Regions from separate parts of the Homo sapiens genome. Here region 2 is linked to region 1. The links come from fine-mapping of genetic effects on gene expression. A gene starts in region 1. The other region holds a variant in brackets. All regions are shown on one strand. Distances are from middle to middle. Region 1 holds the start of SRSF4 (serine and arginine rich splicing factor 4). Region 2 has its middle 13 kb from the start of TMEM200B.

What was found. PIP is the estimated chance that this variant, and not a neighbour inherited with it, causes the effect. A credible set is the group of variants that fine-mapping cannot tell apart.
Region 2: its variant is the best candidate, but not a certain one, in a credible set for the expression of SRSF4 in whole blood (INTERVAL, PIP 0.55).

What each region holds. Positions count from the first base shown.
Region 1 is chr1:29,175,738-29,188,376 of GRCh38, forward strand. It overlaps SRSF4 (serine and arginine rich splicing factor 4), which reads right to left and starts at 6,163. Exons shown (of 6, transcript NM_005626.5): 1 at 5,909-6,163. The coding sequence starts at 6,015. It also overlaps a transcript of MECR not described here. RefSeq lists enhancers at 2,197-2,697, 6,216-6,853, 6,282-6,511, 6,854-7,491, 10,876-11,521 and 1 more and silencers at 5,762-5,951, 6,002-6,211.
Region 2 is chr1:29,130,137-29,142,775 of GRCh38, forward strand. No RefSeq gene overlaps it. Among named protein-coding and RNA genes, the nearest start is that of TMEM200B, 13 kb to the left of the region's middle. The variant G/C (reference allele first, on the strand shown) is at 5,207.

The DNA of each region.
Region 1 (12,639 bases):
TATGTGCTACTTTGAAAATTAAGAGTGGGTCTTTAATTTTAACTATACATAAAGAGAGTTATTCAAACACGCTTTTAAACAAAACTTGTTTTAACCTCTTCTTAGATAATCCTAAAATTAATCCAGAACCAAATGTCTTCCTTTTCTTAACATAGACTCTAATGCTTTGTACATGCCAGTGCAAATGGGATGCTATTTCTGAGGCTGGCAGAAGGGCTTAAAAACAAAAAGGTGGCCGGGCATGGTGGCTCACACCTGTAATCCCAGCACTTTGGGAGGCCGAGGCAGGTGGATCATGAGGTCAGGAGATCAAGACCATCCTGCCTAACACGGTGAAACCCTGTCTCTACTAAAAATACAAAAAATTAGCCGGGCGTGGTGGCACGCGCCTGTAGTCCCAGCTACTTGGGAGGCTGAGGCAGGAGAATTGCTTGAACCCAAAAGGCGGAAGTTGCAGTGAGCTGAGATTGTACCACTGCACTCCAGCCTGGGCGACAGAGCAAGACTCCATCTCAAAAAAAACAAAAAACAAAAAACAAAAAAACAACAAATAGGTGGTAGGGTTCCTAAAGGCAAAGTGTTTGCTTTTTCTTTTGTCACTCATTAGTTATAGCATTATCATAAAAATGATAAAGCACTTCTCTGCCACTTGGTGGTGGGTGAAGATAATCCCTCTCATGATTAAGAATACGGTAACGATGAATGACAGAGCCTTGGGAGAAGCCTTGGGAGAATTAAAAACTAAAAACTTTAAAAAAAAAAAAAAGAAAAAAATACTGTAACAGCTCATCTAACCAGAAACCAGCAACCTGGAACATTAAACTAACTATATACTTCCTAATCTGTCAAGAATTCAGGAGTCAAAAGAGAAAAATCCCTGTGTAGGTGCTGGGGTTGGCAGTAATTCTTCTCAGTATCTAAGGCTTAATAATGCCCTCCAGTGAGCAGTGACATACACAACAACGACCTGCCTCACTCGAAGAGTCTTGAACTCCACATTAAAAAAATTATGGTGCATTAAACAAGGGCGAAAACAAAAATTTTCTGGTAATAATTAGATAGCATGACTAAACAGACCACAACATCCCCTGAAAATTCAGGCTATTCATGATTTCACTGTTCCATGAAACGCAGGTTCTGAAGTTTAAATCCAAGTTTCCCTTGAGAGTTTTAATTCATGACTTGAACTAAAAAATAAAACTATAAATTTCAATGATCTGGGGGTTTATCCTTCTAGCTACTAGACAGGCAAAATAATCTTAATATGTGGTAAGTTTTACTCATTAACTAAAATATGGAAAAGCTAAGATATAAAGATCTGACTAAAACCACAAGATTTTATGACAAAAGGGCAACTAGTGTACTCAAAATTCTTTCACACTTTACATGAAATGGCTTATTATAAAAAATAAAATCTATATACAATCAAAGCCAACAAAAGTTACCACAGAGCTGAAAGGGTATAAACAAGTGCTGCTAATATTGTTGCTTCCTTGACGTGCATCTAGGATTCCTGCCCCTCCCTTCCCTACAGTAACTCTTTTTGTTTTTTTTTTTTTTTGAGACGAAGTTTTGCTCTTGTTGCCCAGGCTGGAGTGCAATGGCAGGATCTCGGCTCACCGCAACCTATGCCTCTGAGGTTCAAGTGATTCTCTTGCCTCAGCCTCCCGAGTAGCCAGGATTACAGGCATGTGCCACGACGCCCGGCTAACTTTGTATTTTTAGTAGAGACAGGGGTTTCTCCATGTTGGTCAGGCTGGTCTTGAACTTATGACCTTGGGTGATCTGCCTGCCTTGGCCTCTCAAAGTGCCGGGGTTACAGGTGTGAGCCACCGTGCCAGGCCCTTGCAGTGACTCTTGAAGTTTATGGGGCGGGTAGAAAAGTAGGAGACCTTAATGGGAAATGGAATGGTCTATATGATCCTGGGAGATCTTCGTTGTATTTGTGGTCCCAAACCATCTTTCAAAAAGTTCTCTAGAACAGTGGCAATCTACATTAGCGATGCCTGGTGTAATAAAACGGTAGGCAATGAACTCTTGCTTACACACCTCTTCTCCAAACCCTCTCAGGGTCCATAGAATCCTTTCCTGAACACTAAATCTCCTTTGAAGAACTCATTTGTTTCCTTATTTGGTCATCTTCCTATTACACAAGATTTTTTTTTTTTTTTTTTTTTTTTGAGACAGAGTCTTGCTCTGTTGCCTAGGTTGGAGTGCAGTGATGCAATCTCTGCTCACTGCAACCTCCACCTCCCAGGTTCAAGCAATTCTCCTGCCTTAGCCTCTAGAGGAGCTGGGATTACAGGTGCCCACCACCACACCCAGCTAATCTTTGTATTTTTAGTAGAGATGGGGTTTCACCATGTTGGCCAGGCTGGTCTCAAACCCCTGACTTCAAGTGATCCACCTACCTCGGCCTCCCAAGGTGATGGGATTACAGGTGTGAGCCACCGTGACCGGTCTAGACAAGCATTTTATGCCTTAATTCTAAACTTAACTTACAACCCTTCAGCCTAACATATCTACTGATACATCTCACTTCTACAAATCTGAACTCCAGCAATTCTTCAAAGACCTATCTAAAGCATCCAAAATCTGTTTCTGAGTTTCAATTACTTTTTTTTTTGAGACAGAGTCTCGCTGTCGCCCAGGCTGGAGTGCAGTGGCACGATCTCGGCTCACTGCAAGCTCCACCTCCCAGGTTCACGCCATTCTCCTGCCTCAGCCTCTCGAGTAGCTGGGACTACAGGTGCCTGCCACCATGCCCGGCTACTTTTTTTTAATTTTTATTTTCATTTTTAGTAGAGACGGGGTTTCACCATCTTAACCAGGATGGTCTCGATCTCCTGACCTCGTCATCTGCCCGCCTCGGCCTCCCAAAGTGCTGGGATTACAGGCCACCGCGCCCGGCCTCTGAGTTTCAATTACTAATCACAATCTAGATATGTTCAAACATGCTTCCCAGTAGGGAGATCCACTGCCCTTCTGCTAGGGGACTATAAGCTTACATACGTAGCTAAGTTATGCTTTTTCTTTTGTACTCACTCCTTCCTTTCAGACTCTCCAGCGTTTTTGCCATACAGGCAATTTTTGCTTGAAATACATCTTTACCATTGGTCTTCTTCCCAGAAGTCGTTTTCCTCTGTAATGATTCCTCAATGATGCCAGGAGGTCATATTGTGTGCTGTTTGGTGACTGTCATACCTGTCTTTGAAACTCTAAAATGACTTCATTTCAACCTTGACTTTCAATGACATTTCATGCATATCATGGTTTGGCAGCATAACTGTAAGAATGAACAGTTCCTTAAAAAAACCACCCAGGTATTTAGGGTCCTGAAAGGCTCTTTCCTCTTATCGCTCCATCTTCCTTTTGGGTTGCTCACTTCTTCCTTCCAGAGCCTTTGAATTCCTACTCATTGATTTCGAATTTTTAGTGTAAAATCTAATAGTCGTTGTTTCTGGTTTATGTTGTTAAATTTCTAGATTCTTCATAAGGCTTGATCCATGCTAGATTGTTTATTATTTTTCATAATTGCTTCTTACTGGACCATGTCTTCAACACCAATTATGACATTAAAAAAATATTTTTTCCCTATTCATCAAAAAGCAAAAAAAGTCAGCATTGTACTTATTTTATTAGAGATGGGGGTCTTGCTGTTACCCAGACTGGAGTGCAGTGTCACAATCATAGCTCACTGTAGCCTTGAAATCCTAGGCTGAAGTGATCCTCCTGCCTCATCCTCTGAAGTAGCTAGGACTATAGGCGAGTGTCACCACGCGTGGCTAATTAAAAAAATTTTTTTCTTAGAGATGGGGTCAGGCTGGTCTCAAACTCCTGGCCTGAAGTAATCTTCACACTTCAGCTGGGATTGCAGGCACAAGTCACCATGCCTGAGCCCCAACTACGACATATACTATTCCCAGAAACCTAAATTTCTTCACTTCAAGCTCTAATCTATTCTTCAAAGCCATTTCAACACATCTTTTCAAGCAAATCATTCCAAGTTTTACTAGAGTTTAAAGCGAAAGCAAACATTTCTTAATTCAAAGTGCACATGTCATAATGCTTAATTTATTCAAGAGCAGAACTGTTTTCTGCCTCCTCCCCCAATTCATTTAGCACAGTGGTGGACATTTTGTTGATGGGTTATCAATACATTTGGTTGATGAATCAGTTTCCCATTAACAGTCTTGTCATTTCCTGCACACTATCACCTGAGTAACATTAGAAAAGACCTCACCAAACACGCTTTATGTTATCAAACACCAACAAGCAAAGATGTTTCCTCATCCCTCTGATTATAGCTGCCACTTACTGCCTAAGCCAAATGCTTTACATTTATTATCTCTAATCTTCCTTTTCCACATGAATGAACAACCAGGTTCAGAGAAGTAACTTGCCCATACGTAGTAAGTGGTGGAACCAGGATTTGACTTAGGCCTGGCTGGCTTCAAAATCCACACTTTGTCCACAAAAGTTAGTTATGCTGTCAATTTAGCTGGGCTCTGAAAAAAACTGGAGTTTCAACTTTCACATATATGGTATGTATACAATAACGTCTACCCGCCACTTCAATATATCCTTAAGAACTGAACGTTTTACTGTAGAAAAGGAGTAGTTTTTAAAGCCTTTTACTGTAAAAGAAATCAGTACTTTACTAAAGACGTCCTCAGAAAGAAAACGATTCTAATAATTAATTTGAAATGGCTTTTTAAACCCAAATCATCATTTGAGAATACGGTAGCTACCAGTTTTCTCATACGTGAAACATACTTAGGTAACTTTCAAAATGTTTCAGGTGTCAGTTACTAGTATAACCCTGGGGAGTAAACGGTAGCTATATTACAACTGTTGCAAAGTAGAGTTTCTTTTTTAAGCCAAGAGTTCTCTAACACCCAAGGTTTAGTGCCCTAAAATGTCACCCCAGTCCTTTTAATTTTATATCCATGCCTTCCAAGCCCTACCTAACATCTGGTTCCCAGTTTTCCCCGTTGAGTATTTTCTCCAGGCCTGATTCCTCAACAGTTTTCCCTAAAACCTGTAGCTCATGCTGGCACTATTTTTGCCGAAGTAGATTAAGAATACAAGTAATAGATCATACTCTGGGGGAGGCAGTAAGTTAACAATTTCGTCTCCGTCTGCGTTAACCAGACGCAGATACTAGCCAGGGTGGCCACTATTCTCCTAACAAATTCTACAACGGCCAAGCAATTTTTCGGTAAGTTGGAAAACGGAAACCACAGCGTGGAAACTCTGCACGGAGTCTTAAAGATAAGAAGTTAAGACTTTAATTTACTCTTGCAGAGGGAACGGTGAAGGCTTTCAGCACGGCAAGACGATACTTTCGAAACTGTCACTAGACTACTCAAACTGGAGTCTCCCGCCCAAAAAAGCGTGGCACACGGCTAAAAAGGGCCTCCCTCCAAGGCTCCAGTCCTCGGGGAAGACGGCGCTGTGACCGTCTGATCCATGAGACCGGGCAAGAGGTGAAAGGGAGCAGGAAATCCTGTTTATTTCCAGTAGTCCTCAGAGCGGGAAAGGTTGGTGTCTACCCAGAAACGAATAGGGCCCCAGTTCCGGGCCTAGGAAGGGAAAACCCAGGTCTCCCGGGCGCCCTGGAGCTGTGCCCCCCTGCCCGGAGCACCAGCCCCACTCGGGCTTTCCTTCTCCCCGTCCCACTCAGGGCCTCAGCACAGCTCCCATTATGCCTCCACCACCCCCACCCGCGCAGGCGCAGTGGGAACCGGGGCCTACCCGCGCCCCCGAGGCGCCGCCACTATGGCGGAGCCTGGCCAGGCCGGTAGCCGCTCCGCGCGGACCAGGCGTCCCTCTCCCGTCCCCGCGGCCTCCCCACCACCTATGGGGTCTGTCCCCGCCCGGCCGGACCCTCTTTCGCCCTCCTCACCCGTTCTTCAGATCCACCTCCAGGATCTTCCCGTAGCCCTTAAAGAAGCGCTCCACATCGCGCTCCCGGGCCTGGTAGCTCAGGCGGCCGATGTACACCCGCGGCATCCCGGCAACGGCAGTGATGGCTGGCCCCGGCCCCAGCCCCCCTTAGGCGGCGGCGGGCAAAGCGAGAGCACGGCGGCAGCGGCGGCGGCGGCAACGGGCGGGCGGCGGGACGGACGCAGCCGAACCCCGGCGACGTACGCGAGCACGCAGCTCGCGAGCGCGCGCTTCCACTTCCCCCGCCCTTCCCCGAGGCGGAAGGTAACCGGAGAGAGCGCGCGTTCGCTTCCCGCTCGGCCAGGACTGGGGGAGGAGCTTGCCCGGGGGCGCGCCGACGTGCGGCGGGGCAAGGTGATCGACAGGCGGCGCTGCGGCACGTCCTCGCGCGAGCTCGCCAAAGGGGTTCCTGCACCGCCTTCCGCAGCCAGCTGGCTTCGCCCCTCCCCCGGAAGTGTCCGCACCTCCTAGAGCCCAGCGAGCGAGCGTTTGTGCTTTTGTCCTTTGAACCGGGTGTGGTTTGGATTTCGGAGCTGGAGCTTTGGAATCAAACCTAGCTTCCAAACGATTGTGTACCCGTGACCTTGGGCTTGTTACGCGCGATGTCTCGGACCCTCCTTTATCTTTTCTGTAAAAGGGGGAGAGTAGTTCCTACCTTCCAGAGTTGTCTTGAGAATTATATGAGAATACGTACATAAAGCACTTAGTAGTTTTGTCATATCAAGTGCCCAATAAATGAGACCAGTATTATTTTTAAGAGGACACTGCTTAAATAGAAGCAGTGTGAGAAGCGGAGAAGGCTGGAGCTTTGGAGCTAGACTAGGCATGACGCCGAGTAAATTACTTGACCACAATCCAACCTATTTTTTTTTTTTTGAGACGAGTTTCGCTCGGTCGCCCAGGCTGGAGTGCAGTGGCGCGACCTCAGCTCACTGCAACCTCCGCCTCCCGGGTTCAAGCGATTCTCCTGCCTCAGCCTCCAGAGTAGCTGGGACTACAGGCGCCCGCCCCCACGCCCGGCTAATTTTTGTATTTTTAGGAGAGAGGAAGTTTCACCATATTGGCCAGGCAGGTCTCAAACTCCAGACCTCAGGTGATCCGCCCGCCTTGGCCTCCCAAAGTGCTGGGATTACAGGCGTGAGCCACTGCGCCTGGCCTATCCAGTCTATTTTCTAACCTGTAAAATTAGAATAATGTATACCCATCTCAAGGATTACACAGGTCACTAAATGGGGTAGTGTATGTGAAAGTACTTGGAACAGTGTCTGAAACATGGTAAGAGCTCAATAAATATTGGTTCCCTTCTCACTAACGCCATGTACCTAGAACCATAAAGGGTTTTGTTTCTTTGCTTGTTTTTGTTTTTTGAATATTTTGAAAGGATAACTCAAGGTTCAAATGATACACAGTGAAAAGTCTTCGCTGTCCACCAGCCACTTAGTTTCTCTTCCCAGAGGCAGTTTCTGAAATGTCCTTTAGGAGGTTAATTTACCCTTATAAAACAAATAGTAGGATACTATACATATGGTTCTACACAAAATATATTTTGAAAATCATTCCTTAAGAGTATAAAAGGACTAGTTTTATGGTTCATACCATTTTATACACAGTAATTTATTTAGCCAGTGCCCTGGTGAAGGACATTGAAATAAGTTCCAACCTTTTGTTATTACACTGCTGCAGTAACTTTGCATTTCTCTCTCTCTCTTTCTCTCTCTCTCTATATATATCATCTATTCCTAGAAATAGGATATTTGGGTCAGAGTTTTGATAAGTTATTGCTCAATTCCCCTTAAGTGGCTGTTTCCTCATATCCTCATCAACACCGTGTTATCAAACTTTTTGATCTTTGCCAATCTGAGAGGTGAAAAATGTTATCTCCAAGTGGTTTAATTTGCAAATATCATATTTTGCAGAGATATGAGTCTTTCTTCATATGTTTGAGATATATTTTCCTATTTCTGTCTGTGTATATCCTTTACCCATTTTTCTTATTCATAGGTGCTCACTATATATTAGGAAAATCAGCTCTTTGTCAAATGAGTTGCAAATATTTTTTCCATTTGTTGACTTTTGACTTTGCCAAGAGTGTTTTTTAGCCATGCAAAAACATTAGATATTTATGGGATCAATTTATCCATCCTTTATTTTTCTTTGATTCTGGATTTTATTTTTAAATTTTTATTTATTCTACTTTTTTTTTTTTTTTTTGAGACTGAGTCTCGCACTGTCGCCCAGGCTGCAGTGCAGCGGTGCGATCTCAGCTCACTGCAACCTACGCCTTCTGGGTTCAAGCGTTCTCCTTCCTCAGCCTCTAGAGTAGCTGGGATTACAGGCACCTGCCACCACGCCCGGCTAATTTTTTTGTATTTTAGTAGAGAAGGGGTTTCACTATGTTGGCCAGGCTGGTCTTGATCTCCTGACCTCGTGATCTGCCTGCCTCGGCCTCCCAGAGTGCTGGGACTACAGGCGTGAGCCACTGTACCCGGCTTTTTTTTTTTTTTTTTGAGATGGAGTCTTGGTCTGTTGCCCAAGATGGAGTGTAGTGGCACTATCTTGGCTCACTGCAGTCTCTGCCTCCAGGTTCAAGCAATTCTCCTGCCTCAGCCTCCCAAGTAGCTGGGATTACAGGCATGTGCCACCACGCCTGGCTAATTTTTTTGTATCTTTAATAGAGACTGGGTTTCACCATGTTGGCCAGGCTGGTCTCAAACTCCTGACCTCAGGTGAGGTGGCGTGAGCCACCGCGCCCGGCAAGAAATCTATTTTGAAAGTAATAATTAGTGGCTGGGTGCGGTGGTTCACGCCTGTAATCCCAGCGCTTTGGGAGGTTGAGGCAGGAGGATCATCTGAGGTTAGGGATTCAAGACCAGCCTGGTCAACATGGGGAAACCCCATCTCTACTAAAAATACAAAAAATTAGCCAGGTGTGATTGTGTGGGCCTGTAGTTCAGCTATTCAAAAGGCTGAGGCAGGAGAATTGCTTGAACCCAGGTGGCAGAGGTTGCAGTGAGCCGAGATCGTGCCATCACACTCCAGCCTGGGTGACAAGAGCAAAACTCCATCTCAAAAACAGGCCACAGCGCCCAGCCTATTCTACTTTTTTAGAGATGGAGTCTCGTTGTTTTCCTGCCTGGTCTTAAACTACTGGGCTCAGGCCAGGCACAGTGGCTCACACCTGTAATCCCAGCACTTTGGGAGGCCGAGGTGGGTGGATCACCTGAGGCCAGGAGTTCGAGACCAGTCTGGCCAACATAGTGAAACCCTGTCTCTATTAAAAATACAAAAAATTAGCCAGACATGGTGGCAGGCGCCTATAATCCCAGCTACTCGGGAGGCTGAGGCAGGAGAATAGCTTGAACCCAGGAGGCGGAGGCTGCAGTGAGCCAAGATTGTGCCATTGCACTCCAGCCTGGGCAACAAGAGCGAAACTTTGTCTCAAAAAAGAAACAAACAAACAACTGGGCTCAAGCAATCCTCCCTTCTGGACCTCCCAGTGTTGAGATTACAGGCATGAGCCACTGCACCCAACCTCCTATTTATTATTTTATTTTTTAAATTTAATTCAATTTTATTTTTTGAGACAGAGTTTTGCTCTGTCACCCAGGCTGGAATACAGTGGCATGATCTTGGCTCACTGCAACCTGTGCCTCCTGGGTTCACACGGTTCTCCTGCCTCAGCCTCCTGAGTAGCTGGGACTACAGGCCCGTGCCACCATGCCAAGCTAATTTATGTATATATATTTTAGAGACAGAGTTTAACTCGTTGCCCAGGCTGGAGTGCAATGGCACGATCCCCGCTCACTGCAACCTCTGCCTCCCGGTTTCAAGTGATTCTCCTGCCTCAGCCTCCTGAGTAGCTGGGATTACAGGCATGTGCCACCACGCCCAGCTAATTTTGTATTTTTAGTAGAGATGGGGTTTCTCCACGTTGGTCAGGCTGGTCTTGAACTTCCAACTCCAGGTGATTCACCCGCCTGGGCCTCCCAAAGGGCTGGGATTACAGGTGTGAGCCACCTTGCCCGGCCATAATCTTTAATTCATTTGGAATTCAGTAAGTGTGAGGAACATAACATTCTTAAGAACTAGCAATCTGGCCTGGGCAACATGGCAAAAACCCGTCTCTGCAGAAAAAACAACAAAAAAAATTAGCCAGGCATGGCGGTGCATGCCTGTAGTCCCAGCTACTTGGGAGGCTGAGATGGGGGGGATCTCCTGAGCCCAGGGAGGTTGAGGCTGCAGTGATCTGTGATCATGCCACTGTCCTCAAGCCTGGATGTCAGAGTGAGACCCCATCACATGCACACACACACACAAAAACAACAAAAAACCACGAAAACAAAAATCCTAGCACTAAGCTTGGTTGTTATATTAACCTATTGTACAGATGGGAAAGAGAGCCCTCCAGAGGGGAAATGCTTGTCCCTAAAACCTGCTCCTCCTTCCCCAATGCAAGTGGCACCACCATCAGCGAGGTGCCAAAGTTCAACCTTCAACCACTGCATTCAGTCTGTCCTTCTGATTATTCCTTCTAAATATTCACAGATTCATTCCTTCTTTCCATTCCTACTTCCTAAACTAGTTCAGGCCTCATCAGACTGTTCACAGTCAGGGCTTTGATATGCGCTACTTCCTCTGCCTGGAATACAGCTGGCTCCTTCTTATTCAGGCCTGAGGCCTTCCATGTCCACCTTATTTCAAGTGTTGTTTGTCATATTTCACAACACTTACTACACAGTCTGTAATTACCTGGTTTATTTATTTACTTGTGCATGGTCTTTCTCCACCACTGGAATGTAAGCTCGCTGGTCTCAGGGGCCATGTTTTTTGTTTCCTGCTCTATCCCTAGCCCCTAACAACAGTGCCTTTCACATAAAGAGCGTTTAAAATACTTATTGAATGAATACATAAATAATCTCTTACCTGGACTACTTCAATGGCCTCCTGATTCTGCCTTTTTCTCATGCCTCCCCATGAGACACAGACTCAGGGAAATTTGAATGCTCTTCCAGTTGACATGTCAAGAACAAAATCAAGGACTCGTGAGAAGAGTGGGACCTCCAAGGCCACCTGTGGAGCCAAAAGAATTGGGACTGTCTGCTGTAGTGACCAGATATGGTCAGGGGATCTGGCTTCTAGTGCCAGCTCTGCTGCCTGCTGTGTGATCTGGAACAACTCACTTCACATCTCTGGGAGGCTGCTGCTTCTGTAAAGTGGTGACATTAACATCTCAATGACATAGGAAATTTCTAAGAATCTCTTTTTTCTCTTTCATAAGGTGCCAATGTCTCCTTTCCACTTACCTTTCAGCTAGCCCTGCTGTCTTCCCAGGAATGTTCCTGCCTTCAGATGCAAGCAGATGTTGTGCCAGGACTGAGCCTTCTCTTCTCCACCATTTCCAGCTGCTGTGGCTTGGCCTAGTGCTTTACTCAGGGCATGGTGCCTGACAATAAGCATGGGGCTGGTGGGTGTTCTGAGAGTTTCCATGCACAAGTACAGCCTGGCACACACAGGTTAACGCAAGAGCTTTTCTCTTTTCTTTTTTGAGACCGAGTCTCACTCTGTTGCCCAGGCTAGAGTGCAGTGGTGAGATCTCGGCTTACTGCAACCTCCGCCTCCGGGTTCAAGCGATTCTCGTGCCTCAGCCTCCCGAGTAGCTGGGACTACAGGCATGAGCCACCATGCCTGGGTAATTTTTTTTGTATTTTTAGTAGAGACTGTGTTTCACTATGTTGGCTGGTCTCGAACTCCTGACCTCAGGTGATCTGCACACCTCAGCCTCCCCAAGTGCTGGGTTACGGGCGTGAGCCACCATGCCTGGCCGCAAGAGCTTTATTCTTCTCGGCCTCAGTCTTCCCCTGAGGAAAGTGTGCGTAATTATCTCATATCCCAAGAAAACACATTTATCAAATTTTTTTTCCTTTTTTTGTTGAGACAGAGTCTCACTCTGTCACCCAGGCTGGAGTGCAGTGGTGCGATCTCAGCTCACTGCAACCTCTGCTTCCTGGGTTCAAGCGATTCTCCTGCCTCAGCCTCCCAAGTAGCTGGAACTAAAGATGCACGCCACAGGCCAGGCGAGGTGGCTCACGCCTGTAATCCCAGCACTTTGGGAGGCCCAGGTGGGTGGATCATGAGGTCAGGAGATCGAGACCATCCTGGCTAACATGGTGAAACCCCATCTCTACTAAAAATACAAAAAAATTAGCCAGGCGTGGTGGTGGGCGCCTGTAGTCCCAGCTACTCGGGAGGTTGAGGCAGGAGAATGGCGTGAACCCAGGAGGCGGAGCTTGCAGTGAGCTGAGATTGTGCCACTGCACTCCAGCCTGGGCAACACAGCAAGACTCTGTCTCAAAAAAAAAAAAAAAAAAAAGACGCACACCACCATGCCTGGCTAATTTTTGTATTTTTAGTAGAGATGGGGTTTCACCATGTTGGCCAGGCTAGCCTCGAACTCCTGGAGAGACCAGATCTTGAGGGGCCTCAAGGATCATGGGAAGGATTTGGAGTTTACTTTTTTTTTTGAAATGGAGTCTCACTCTGTTGCCCAGGCTGGAATGCAGTGGTGCAATTTTGGCTCACTGCAACCTCCACCTCCTGGGTTCAAGCAATTCTCCTACCTCAGCATCCCAACGAGCTGGGATTACAGGTGCCTGCCACCACGCCCGGCTAATTTTGTATTTTTAGTACAAA
Region 2 (12,639 bases), 46 kb before region 1:
AGACTCATCCACCAAAAGTGGAAGAAGCCACAGCTGACTGCTTCAGGAGGCATGCCCCCATAACCTCAGGCAGACGCTTCACTTCTCTGGCCTGTTTCTGCCTCAAACTGTGTCCGGAATTGGTGGGTTCTTGGTCTCACTGACTTCAAGAATGAAGCCGTGGACCCTCGTGGTGAGTGTTACAGTTCTTAAAGGCGGCGTGTCCGGAGTTTTTTCCTTCTGATGTTCGGATGTGTTCGGAGTTTCTTCCTTCTGGTGGGGTTCGTGGTCTTCCCGGCTCAGGAGTGAAGCTGCAAACCTTCGTGGTGAGTGTTACAGCTCTTAAGGCGGCGCGTCTAGAGTTGTTCGCTCCTCCTGGTGGGTTGGTGGTCTCGCTGGCTTTAGGAGTGAAGCTGCAGACCTTCCCCGTGAGTGTTACAGCTCATAAAGGCAGTGTGGACCCAAAGAGTGAGCAGCAGCAAGATTTACTGCAAAGAGCAAAAGAACAAATTTTCCACAATATGTATGGAGACCCCACAGGATTGCTATGGAGACCCCAGAGGATTGCCACTGCTGGCTCAGGCAGCCTGCTTTTATCCTCTTATCTGGCCCCACCCACATCCTGCTGATTGGTCCATTTTACAGAGTGCCCAGCAGTCTGTTTTGACAGGGCGCTGATTGGTGCGTTTACAATCCCTGAGCTAGACACAAAGGTTCTCCACGTCCCCACCAGATTAGCTAGATGCAGAGTGTGGACACAAAGGTTCTCCAAGTTCCCACTAGAGTAGCTAGATACAGAGTGTCCATTGGTGCATTCACAAACCCTGAGCTAGACACAGGGTGCTGATTGGTGTGTTTACAAACCTTGAGCTAGATACAGAGTGCCGATTGGTGTATTTACAATCCCTTAGCTAGACATAAAGGTTCTCCAAGTCCCCACCAGACTCAGGAGCCCAGCTGGCTTCACCCAGTGGATCCCACACCGGGGCCACAGGTTGAGCTGCCTGCCAGTCCCGTGCCCTGTGCCCGCACTCCTCAGCCCTTGGGTGGTCAATGGGACTGGGCGCCGTGGAGCAGGGGGCGGCGCTCGTCGGGGAGGCTAGGGCCGCACAGGAGCCCACAGAGGGAGGGGGGATGCTCAGGCATGGCGGGCTGCAGGTCCCGAGCCCTGCCCGGAGGGAAGGCAGCTAAGGCCCGGCGAGAAATTGAGCACAGCAGCTGCTGGCCCAGGTGCTAAGCCCCTCACTGCCCAGAGCCAGCGGGGCCTGCCGAGCTCACGCCCACCCGGAACTCGCGCTGGCCGGCAAGCACCGCGCGCAGCCCGGGTTCCCGCCCGCGCCTCTCCCTCCACACCTCCCCGCAAGCTGAGGGAGCCGGCTCCGGCCTTGGCCAGCCCAGAAAGGGGCTCCCACAGTGCAGCGGCGGGCTGAAGGGCTCCTCAAGTGCCGCCAAAGTGGGAGCCCAGGCAGAGGAGGCGCCCAGAGCGAGCGAGGGCTGTGAGGACTGCCAGCATGCTGTCACCTCTCAAGACTACCTGCCAATTACCCATCTCAGAGGGTCGTCAGAGATCGCTGAGCCCTGCCAGAGGTGCCGGATAAACCTTAGCTGCCTTTATTGTTATTGTTATTATTTCTGCTTCTATTAACTGAGCTCTGATGTTCTACCTCATATCTGTGGCCTTTTTCAAATTCTTTTTTTTTTTTTTTAAGACAGGGTCTTGCTCTGTCACCCAGGCTGGAGTGCAGTGGTGCAATCACAGCTCACTGCTGCCTCAACCTCCTGGGCTCAAGCGATTCTCTGACATCAGTCAGAGTAGCTAAGACCTCAGCCATGTACCACCACACCCAGCTAACTTTTGTATTTTTTTCTAGAGACAGGATCTCACCATGTTGCCCAAACTCCTGGCCTCCAGCGATCCTCCCACCTCAGTCTCCCAGAGTGTTGGAATTACAGATGTGAGCCACCGCTCCCAGCTTTTTCAAATTATTGAATGTTCCAGTGGACTCAGCCTGGATCAGACATCTATCTCCAGTCCAATCAGCTAAGGACTAGAGGGAGGGAGAGAACAGGGTCAGGAAGCCTGGACAGGCTGGACACGTGGATTCTCTCAGAAGCCTGGGAGGTGGTGATGGGGGTCCCTGCAAGTGACTGGCAGCCTAGGGAGTGCGCAGGCTGGACCTTGGGAGTTGGGTGATCCAAGGGCTTGAAGTAGGGCTGCTGGCTGGAAGTGGGACTGTGGGCACTCACCTGCCACCCGTGTGTCCAGCAGAAGAGTGAGGCTGGAGGGTCCTATGAAGATCTGCTTCTCACTTCTCCCTTTGGGAGGGCTTATAGGTCACAGGTCACAGCAAGGCACATGGGGTAGGAGAAGCCTCCATTGAGGAAATTACATATATGCCCTCCCCCGCACCACCGCTGCCACTGTAAATTAAGAAAAAAGCACTGTTGTGTTGGAAGGTGTGCCTTAGAGGGGGAGCAGGGCAACAGCCAGCCCTGGCTGACACCAAGAAATGTGTGTTTGGCTGGGCATGGTGGCTCACACCTGTACTCCCAGCACTTTGGAAGGCTGAGGCGGGTAGATAGTTTGAGGCCACACGTTCAAGACCAGCGTGGGCAACATAGCAAAGCCCTGTCTCTGAAACATAAAGAAAGAAAATGAAAGAAAAAGAAAGAAAGGGAGGGAGGGAGGGAGGGAGGGGCCGGGCCCAGTGGCTCATGGCTGTAATCCCAACACTTCGAGAGGCCAAGGCGGGTGGATCACCTGAGGTCAGGAGTTTGAGACTAGCCTGGCCAACATGGTGAAACCCTGTCTCTACTAAAAATTAAAAAAAAAATTAGCCGGGCATGATGGCGCATGCCTGTAGTGCCAGCTACTCGGGAGGCTGAGGCAGGAGAATTGCCAGAACCGGAAAGCAGAGGTTGCAGTAAGCCAAGATCGTGCCAGTGCACTCCAGCCTGGGCAACAGAGGGACTCCGTCTCAAAAAAAAAAAAAAAAAAAGAAAAGAAAAAGAAAAGAAAGAAAAGAAAAAAAAAAGTAAAGAAAGAAAGGAGGGAGGGAGGAAGGGAAGGAAGAAAGGAAGGAGAAAGAAAGAAGAAAAGAAAGAAAAGGAAGGAAGGAAGAAAGAAAGAGAAAGGCCGGGCGCAGTGGCTTATGCCTGTAATCCCAGCACTTTGGGAGGCCGAGGCGGTTGGATCACGAGGTCAGGAGTTCGAGACCAGCCTGGGCAACATGGTGAAACCCCGTCTCTACTAAAATACAAAAAATTAGCCGGGCGTGGTGGCGGGTGCCTGTAGTCCCAGCTACTCGGGAGGCTGAGGCAGAAGAATCGCTTGAACCCAGGAGGCGGAGGTTGCAGTGAGCCGAGATTGTGCCACTGCACTCCAGCCTGGGTGACAGAGCAAGACTCTGTCTCAAAAAAAAAAAAAGAAAAAGAAAAAAAAAAGAAAGAGAAAGGAGAGGAGAAGGAAAGAAGAAAGGAAGGAAGGAAGGAAGGAAAAAAGGAAGGAGAAAGAAAAAGGGAAAGAAAGAAGAAAGAGAAGAGGAGGAAGAAGGGAGGGAGGGAGGGAGGGAAACTGCGTGCACCGTGCAACACTGTGATTGGAGTGACTTGTTACTCCAGTGTAACCCACTGCCAACAGCCTGGTACTCGAGGCCGTAGTAAGCTCTTGTTAAATAGTTGGAAATGGGATGATTGCCAGTTACAGAACAATGGGCCTGGCTCATGCTGCCAGAGTAGTTTGAGAGCGGGTTCTTGCTAGAGCAAGAGAGAGGGGAGTTAGTCTTCGCTTGCAGCTGGAGCAGTAGCTGTCCCGAGTGGGCAGGGAGGCCCTGGCCCTCTCCTTCCTGTTGCTCTGCCCTCCCTCGGGTGTGGCACTCTCCCTGTTTGGTGGTTGAAGACACTTGCTGTTCCCTCTCCCGAGTCTGCAGACCATTGCAAGGCACCGAATGCACACCCAGAACGCTCATCCAGCACGCCCTTTTTCTCAAGTAGGGTGCGTGGCCATGTGGGAGACAACTCGGAGTCTTTGCCACAGACACCACGGGGACACGGCTCTTCCATTTGGTGACAAATCGCACTGCTGGTGAGATACTGAGCTGCGCGTCGCTGGGAAGGAAAGCAGAGGCTGGACCTCTGGGATTCCCGGTGAGAATCCTGCAGGGCAGGCCCCAGGTGGAGGGGGCGACCCCGGTCTCCAGGGCCGGGGGAGGCAGCGAGGCCCAAGGACAGGCGGCGGAGGCGGGAGGCGGCGAATGGGCTCCTCCCGAGGCCCGGACCAACCCCTGGCCGTGAGGCCGCGCCCCGCCGCGTTCAGCGAAGGGAAGCAGGCACCCCGCCCGGCTCTCCGCTGCCTCCACACTCGGGGACCCTGGGCGCTCACGTGTTCCCCTCTGGGCCTCAGGATTCAAGGATGCGCCCTCTTGCAAACAGTCCGTGGCCTGCGACAGAAAGAAAACCCCTGGGAGCGGTCGGGGTGGGGACCCACAAAACGCTGTGGCTAAACCGCATGGCGCCAAGCCCGATCGGAGCGTGGCGTGGGAATCGAGTCAAATTTACCCTGCTAGGTGCGGCTCCAACAAGGTCCCGGGTACTCCTCTAACGCCCAGTGAGGGCAGCACTGCCTTTGTCCCTGCCCCACGGACAGGACACGGAGGCTCCGACATACAAAAGGACTTAACCCGAGGGGAAATGTTAGAGCCGGGCTCCAACCCAGGACTTCCTGAGTCTAAGCCCAATCTGGCCCTAGACGAGCTGCCACGGTGGGCTGCACCCTCCACGGCAGGAGCTTGCCTGGCCTTGCTTCTTAGGTGAGTGTCCAGCCCAGGCCTTTAGAAGTTTGCTTCTTTATCAGGTCACATGTTTTTGGACATTTGTGATCACTGCTTTGCCATTGCAAAGGGGGACAAGAGGCCCAGGGAGCCCCCTCATTTACCAGCCCCTTCCTGGGAGGCTCAGAAAGCAGCCAGCTGCCCCCACATGCACGGTGGCCTGTGCATCAGTGTAGCTTGGCGGGTCATTTTACAGAGGAGGCGACCAAGGAGGTGGCAGGCTGCAGTCGGGGTCCCCAAGGTGATACCTCCATCTCCAGTGTCAAGGCTCTGAGGAGGGAGCTGGGGACCTCAGGAGGCAGTGGCAGTGGAGGAGCTGGTGTGGATGAACCTGAAAGGGGCAGGAAAGGCACTTGGGCAGCCTGGAGCAGGCAGGAGTTGTCACCCGCTCTCTCTAA[G/C]CCAGCCCTGCACAAAGCCACTGGCCTTACCTCCTGCAGGTGAAGCAGGTACAGAGCTACCTTCTGCTTCCAGCCTCGGGGGTGAAATGACCCCCTGCTAAAGTCACACAGAGTATGGGGCAGCATCAGGACTACAGGCCAAATCATCTGACTCCAGAGCCCTCTCTACACAGAGCTGGGAGGTAAAGGTATGAATTATTCCCATTTTACAGGTGAGGAAGCAATGGCCCAGAGAGTTTAAGTAGCTTGTTCAAGGTCACACAGCAAGAAAATAGAGACAGCCATACCACTCCTAGAATCTCCAGTGTCCTCACCTGCACTCAACTCAATGTGTGAAACTCCCGACTCACGCCTGGCGTGTGCTCGGTGCACAGTCCATGTTAGATCCTTTGTTTGGTCTTCTACAGATATTTTGAAAGACATTTTATGTCTGTAATATACAGTCAGGAGAGACAGCCAAAAGGATGTGGAGAAAATGTCCTCAGATGGTTGGAGGTCTTGAAGGTTTTCTTCCCAGGGACGCCAGCACCTCTGATCACTGAGGCGAAACCCCCTGCCTGAAGTGCTTGTTCAACATGCTTCTGCAACATCACTTGGTCCTCGAAAATTTCTGGTTTGGGAGAACTGCCAACGATGCCCCTAGAGACCTTTCAAACCTCTTTGCTAATTCCTCTTGCCAAGAGATGCTTGAGAGGAAAAATTAACATGAATAAAAGATCATTGAAAGAATCTACAGGCCGGGCGCGGTGGCTGACGCCTGTAATCCCAACACTTTGGGAGGCCAAGGCAGGTGAATCACCTGAGGTCAGATGTTCAAGACCAGCCTGACCAACATGGTAAAACCCCATCTCTACTAAAAAAAAAAAAAAAAAAAAAAATTAGCTGGGCGTGGTGGCGGGCGCCTGTAATCCTAGCTACTTTGGAGGCTGAGGCAGGAGAATCACCTGAACCCAGGAGGCAGAGGTTGCAGTGAGCCGAGATCACACCACTGCACTCCAGCCTGGGCAACAAGAGCGAAATTCCATCTAAAAAAAAAAAAGAATCTACAGTCCAATTTGGTGGTGGCTAAGCGACAATGTTTTGTTGTCTACGTTGTAGTTGCTGGTGTATGTGCGGTTGGAAGTAAATTCAGGAGTAGGGAAAAGTAATTGCTGTGCGTGAACCCCGGTGGCTGTGGAGTGGCACCCTGGGGGATCCACCAGCCCGCCCTGGTGTCAGGCTTGGATGGTTTCCACTTTTCTTGCTGTTATAAATAACACCAGTTTAAACACCTTTGTACTTGGAGCACTTTTCTTTGAGTTGTCACCTCAGGATAGATGCCCAGGAGTGGGAGTTCTCATGCAGCTCCTGCCAGTGATTTCTGGCCGCCGCAGCAGTGTGGGAGTGGAGTTCACGGTCACAGCCTGGCTGTGCGCTGGGTTTCATAATAGATACCAGGTGTAACGCGATACCGCGGGGTTGTCCTAATTTGCATTTCCTTAGGACTATCCCAGAGTTCTTCATAGACTCTCTAAGAAACATCAGGGTTTCCTGGAAAGTGTGAATTAAGGACAAATATTCTATCTGATAAAAAAAAAAAAAAAGGGCCGGGCACGGTGGCTCACACCTGTAATCCAGCACTTTGGGAGGCCGAGGTGGGCTCAAGCGATCCTCCTGTCTCAGTCTCCTGTGTTGTTCTGACTACAGGAATGCACCACTGTACCCCACTTTGGAACCCTTTTTATTGTGAATATAATACACCTCCAGGAAATTACATAAAACTTGAATGTTCAGGGCCGGGCGTGGTGGCTCACGCCTGTAATCCCAGCACTTTGGGAGGCCGAGGCAGGCGGATCACGAGGTCAGGAGATCGAGACCACGGTGAAACCCCGTCTCTACTAAAAATACAAAAAATTAGCCGGGTGCGGTGGCGGGCGCCTGTAGTCCCAGCTACTCAGGAGGCTGAGGCAGGATAATGGCGTGAACCCGGGAAGCGGAGTTTGCAGTGAGCTGAGATCGCGCCACTGCACTCCAGCCTGGGTGACAGAGCGAGACTCCGTCTCAAAAAAAAAAAAAAAAAAAAAAAAAAACTTGAACGTTCAGCTGATATTTTTATTATTATTATTTTTTGAGATGGAGCCTTGCTTTGTTGCCCAGGCTGGAGTGCAGTGGCGCCATCTAGGCTCACTGCAACCTCTGCCTCCTGAGTTCAAGCAATTCTCCTGCCTCAGCCTCCCAAGTAGCTGGGATTACAGGTGCCCGCCACCATGCCCGGCTAATGTTTGTATTTTTAGTACAGATGGGGTTTGGCCATGTTGGCCAGGCTGGTCTCAAACTCAGACCTCAGGTGATCCGCCTGCCTGGTCTGGCTGATTAAACTATCATGAAGCAAATGCCTGGTATGAACCCCACCAGGCAAAGACTAGAACACTGCCAGCACCCCCAGAAAGCCCCCGCCATGTCCCTTTCCAAGTGCCACCTCTTCCCTCTATCCAGAAGTGTGTGCTATTCTGATTCTAATACCACAGTTTAGTTTTAAGAAACAGGGTCTTGGCCGAGCCTGTTGGCTCACGCCTGTAATCCCAGCACTTTGGGAGGCTGAGGCAGGTAGATGACTTGAGTTGAGGAGTTGGAGACCAGCCTGGGCAACATAGTGAAACCCCATCTCTACTAAAAATACAATTAGCCGGGCGTGGTGGCGGGCGCCTGTAGTCCCAGCTACTCAGGAGGCTAAAATGGGAGGATAGCCTGAACCCGGGAGGCAGAGATTGGAGTGAGGTGAGATCACACCTCTGCACTCCAGCCTGAGTGATAAAGAAAGACTGTCAAAAAAAAGGAAAAAACAAAAGAAAAAAAGGAAAGGAAAGGAAAAAGGAAAGAAAAGAAAAGAAGAAAAGAAAAAGTGAGACTGTGTCTTGCTTTGTTGCCCAGGCTGGTCTAGAACTCCTGGTCTCAAGTGATCCTCTAGCCTTGGCCTCCCAAAGCACTGAGATTACAGGTGTGAGCCACTGTGCCCGGCCCCTCATTTAGTTTTTTAAACAGCTGTCATATAGTTTTGCCTGTTTGAAATTTCTGTGTGTGGAGCTATGCTTGTGTCTGGCTTCTTGTTTGTGAAATTCACCCATGTTCCTTCATGTACCTGAAGTTTGTTCATTTCCATTGCTATAATACATAGCACTTTGTTATATAAATACACCACAATTGTCCTTTTTTTTTTTTTTTTTTTTTTTTGAGACAGAGTCTCGCTCTGTTGCCCAGGCTGGAGTGCAGTGGTGTGATCTTGGCTCACTGCAACCTCCGCCTCCTGGGTTCCTGCCATTCTCCTGCCTCAGCCTCCCTAGTAGCTGGGACTACAGGTGCCTGCCACCACACCCGGCTAATTTTGTATTTTTAGTAGAGACGGGGTTTCACTGTGTTAGCCAAGATGGTCTCGATCTCCTGACCTCAGGCAATCCACCCGCCTCAGCCTCCCAAAGTGCTGGGATTACAGGCGTGAGCCACCGTGCCCAGCCTTTATTTTTTTTGAGATGGAGTTTCAATCTTCTTGCCCAGACTGGAGTGCAATGGCACGATCTTGGCTCACCGCAACTTCCGCCTCCCGGATTCGAGCGATTCTCCTGTCTCAACCTCCTGAGTAGCTGGGATTACAGGCATGCACCACCACGCCCGGCTAATTTTTGTATTTTTTAGGAGAGACAGGATTTCTCCATGTTGGCCAGGCTGGTCTCGAACTCCTGACCTCAGGTGATCCACCCGCTTCGGCCTCCCAAAGTGCTGGGATTATAGGCGTGAGGCACTGCACCCAGCCCACAATTGTCCATTCTACTGTTGAAAAGACTTACAGGTTGTTTTTGGTTTTGGTGGTCAGGATATGTTGTGCTCGAGTCATTTGTGCCCAACCTGGCCTACACACTTCTAGTAGGTCTATACCAAGAGGTGCAAGTGCTGGGTTTGCTTCTCTTTCACTCCTCTTATGTGTGCAATTTTTCCTTTTTTTTTTTTTTTGAGACAAGGTTTCCTTCTGTCACCCAGGCTGGAGTATACTGGCGTGATCTCGGCTTACTGCAGCTTCAATCTCCTGGGCTCAAGAGATCCTCCCACCTCCACATCCTGAGTAGCTGGAATTACAGGTGGGTGTTACCAAGCCCGGCTAATTTTTGTATTTTTTATAGAAATGGGGCCTCACCATGTTGCCCAGGCTGGTCTCAAACACGTGGGCTCAAGCAATCAGCCTGCCTCAACTTCCCAAAGTGCTGTGATTACAGGTGTGAGTGACAGAGCCCAGCCTCTTTGGGATTTTCTACAAAGATGATCATGTTTTCCATAAACAAAGACAATTTTATTTATTCCTTTCCAATGTGTATACCTGCTTTCCCTTTTCTTGTTTTATTGCACTAGCTAGGACTTCCACTATGATGTTGAATAGGAGGATAAGAAATGACAACCCTTGCCTTGTTCCTACCTTAGGAGGAAATTATCTGTTTTTTTTTTCTGAGACAGAGTCTCGCTTTGTCGCCCAGGCTGGAGTGCAGTGGCGCAATCTTGGTTTGCTGCAACGTCTGCCTCCAGGGTTCAAGCATTTCTCCTGCTTCAGCCTCCCAAGTAGCTGGGACTACAGGCACGTGCCACCACACCCGGCTAATTTTTGTATTTTTAGTAGAGATGGGGTTTCACTATGCTGGCCAAGCTGGTCTCAAACTCCTGACCTCTTGATCTGCCTGCCTTGGCCTCCCAAAGTGCTGGGATTACAGGCATGAGCCACCACACGCAGCAACAGATGAAGTATTTTATAAATGTCAATCATCTAGCTGGTTGCCAGGAGAGGTGGCTCACGCCTGTAATCCCAGCACTTTGGGAAGCCAAGGCAGGCAGATCACTTGAGGTCAGGAGCTCGAGACCATGCTGGCCAACATGGTGAAACCCTATCTCTAAGAAAAATACAAAAATTGGGCCGGGTGTGGTGGCTCACGCCTGTAATCCCAGCACTTTGGGAGGCCGAGGTGGGCGGATCATGAGATCAGGAGATCGAGACCATCCTGGCTAACACGGTGAAACCCCGTCTCTACTAAAAATACAAAAAATTAGCCGGGTGTGGTGGCGGGCACCTGTAACCCCAGCTACTCGGGAGGCTGAGGCAGGAGAATGGCGTGAACCTGGGAGGCAGAGTTTGCAGTGAGCGAGATCGCGCCACTGCACTCCAGCCTGGGCGACAGAGCAAGACTCTGTCTCAAAAAAATGAAAACAAAAACAAACAAACAAAAAAACCCAAAAATTAGCTGGGGTGGTGGCGGGTGCCTGTAGTCCCAGCTACTTGGGAGGCTGAGGCTGGAGAATCGTTTGAACCAGGAGTTGGAGGTTGAAGTGAGCTGAGATCACGCTACTGAACTTCAGCCTGGGCGACAGAGTGAGACTCTGTCTCCAAAAAAAAAAAAAAAAAAGATTCTAGTTGGTTTACGGCACTGTTCAGTTCAACTATGTCCTTACTAATTTTCTGCCTGCACCAGTGAATGTCTTTCTTCTTGCTAGTCTGTTTTTGCCTCACACATTTGATGCTTTGCTGTAGGCACATAAGCTAATTGAAGATTTTCGTATCTTTTTTTTTTTCCGAGACTGAGTCTCACTGTGTCACCCAAGCTGGAGTGTGGTGGCGTGATCTGGGCTCACTGCAACTTCTGCCTCCTGGGTCCAAGTGATTCTCATGCCTCAGCCTCCCAAATAGCTGGGATTACAGGCCTGTGCCACCACATTTGGCTAATTTTTGTGTTTTTAGTAGAGACGGGGTTTCACCATGTTGGTCAGGCTGGTCTTGAACTCCTGACCTCAGGTGATCCACCCACCTCGGCCTCCCAAAGTGCTGGGATTATAGGTGTGAGCCACTGGGCCTGGCGATTTTTCTATCTTCTTAGAGAACTGACCCCTCTACCATTATGTAATGCCACTCTATTCCTGGCAATTTTCCTTCCTCTGAATTGGCTTTGTCTGAAATATAGCTACTCCAAGTTTCTTTTTTTTTTTTTTTTTTTTGAGACGGAGTCTTGCTCTGTCGCCCAGGCTGGAGTGCAGTGGCATGATCTCGGCTCATTGCAACCTCTGCCTTCCGGGTTCATGCCATTCTCCTGCCTCAGCCTCCCGAGTAGCTGGGACTACAGGCGACCACTACCCTGCCTAGCTACTTTTTTGTATTTTTAGTAGAGACGGGGTTTCACTGTGTTAGCCAGGATGGCCTCGATCTCCTGACCTCGTGATCCACCTGCCTTGGCCTCCCAAAGTGCTGGCATTACAGGCATGAGCCACTGTGCCCGGCTCTTTTTTTTTCTTTTTTCTCAAGACGAGTCTTTCTGTCACCCTGACTGGAGTGCAGTGGCGCTATCTCGGCTCACTGCAACCCCCACCCCCCAGGTTCAAGCAATTCTCCTGCCTCAGCCTCAAGAGTAGCTGTGATTACAGGTGCCTACCACCACACCAGGCTAATTTTTGTATTTTTAGTAGAGATGGGGTTTCACTATGTTGGCCAGGCTGGTCTTGAACTCCTGACCTGGTGATCTGTCCGCCTCAGCCTCCCAAAGTGCTGGGATTACAGGCGTGAGTCACCGCGCCCCAGGCCCTTCCAAGTTTCTTTTGATTATCTTCATGGTATGTCTTTCTCTAGCCCCTTACTTTCGGTCCATGTCTGTGTACAAGTGGGTTTTTACTTTTTAAAAGTAAAACCTTCAGGCCACCATGCCCAGCTAATTTTTTGTGTTTCTAGTAGAGACGGGGTTTCACCGTGTTAGCCAGGATGGTCTTGATCTCCTGACCTCATGATCTGCCCATCTCAGCCTCCCAAAGTGTTGGGATTACAGGTTTGAGCCACCACGCCACGCCGGGTCTTGCTTATCAAAATCTACTCTAGCCAGGCACGGTGGCCCACAGCAGTAATCCCAGCGCTTTGGGAGGCCGAGGCAGGCGGATTAGCTGAGGTCAGGGTTCGAGACCAGCCTGACCAACCTGGTGAAACCCCGTCTCTACTAAAAATACAAAAAAATTAGCTGGGCATGTTGGCAGGCCTCTGTAATCCCAGCTACTTGGGAGGCTGAGGCAAGAGAATTGCTTGAATCCAGGAGGCGGAGGTTGCAGTGAGCCGAGATCCTGCCACTGCACTGCAGGCTGGGAGCGACAGAGCAAGGCTCCAACTCATAAAAACAAACAAACAAACAAAAAACAAACCCTACTCTGACAGTCTTTTATTTAGGCCATTGACATTTAGCCATGAAAGAAATAGCCTAATATTTACATTTGTTACTGTTTTCATTGTTCTTTGTTCCTCTTTTTGTCTTGCATTTTGGGGGCCAGGTGGATAATTATGGGGAGAAGGGTATGTGTAGATTTTGAGCACCCAAAAGGGTAGATTATAGTGGACTTTTGTATTTCTCTGGCTGCTTCCTATTTTTGGGAAATTTCCTATTGTGTACATT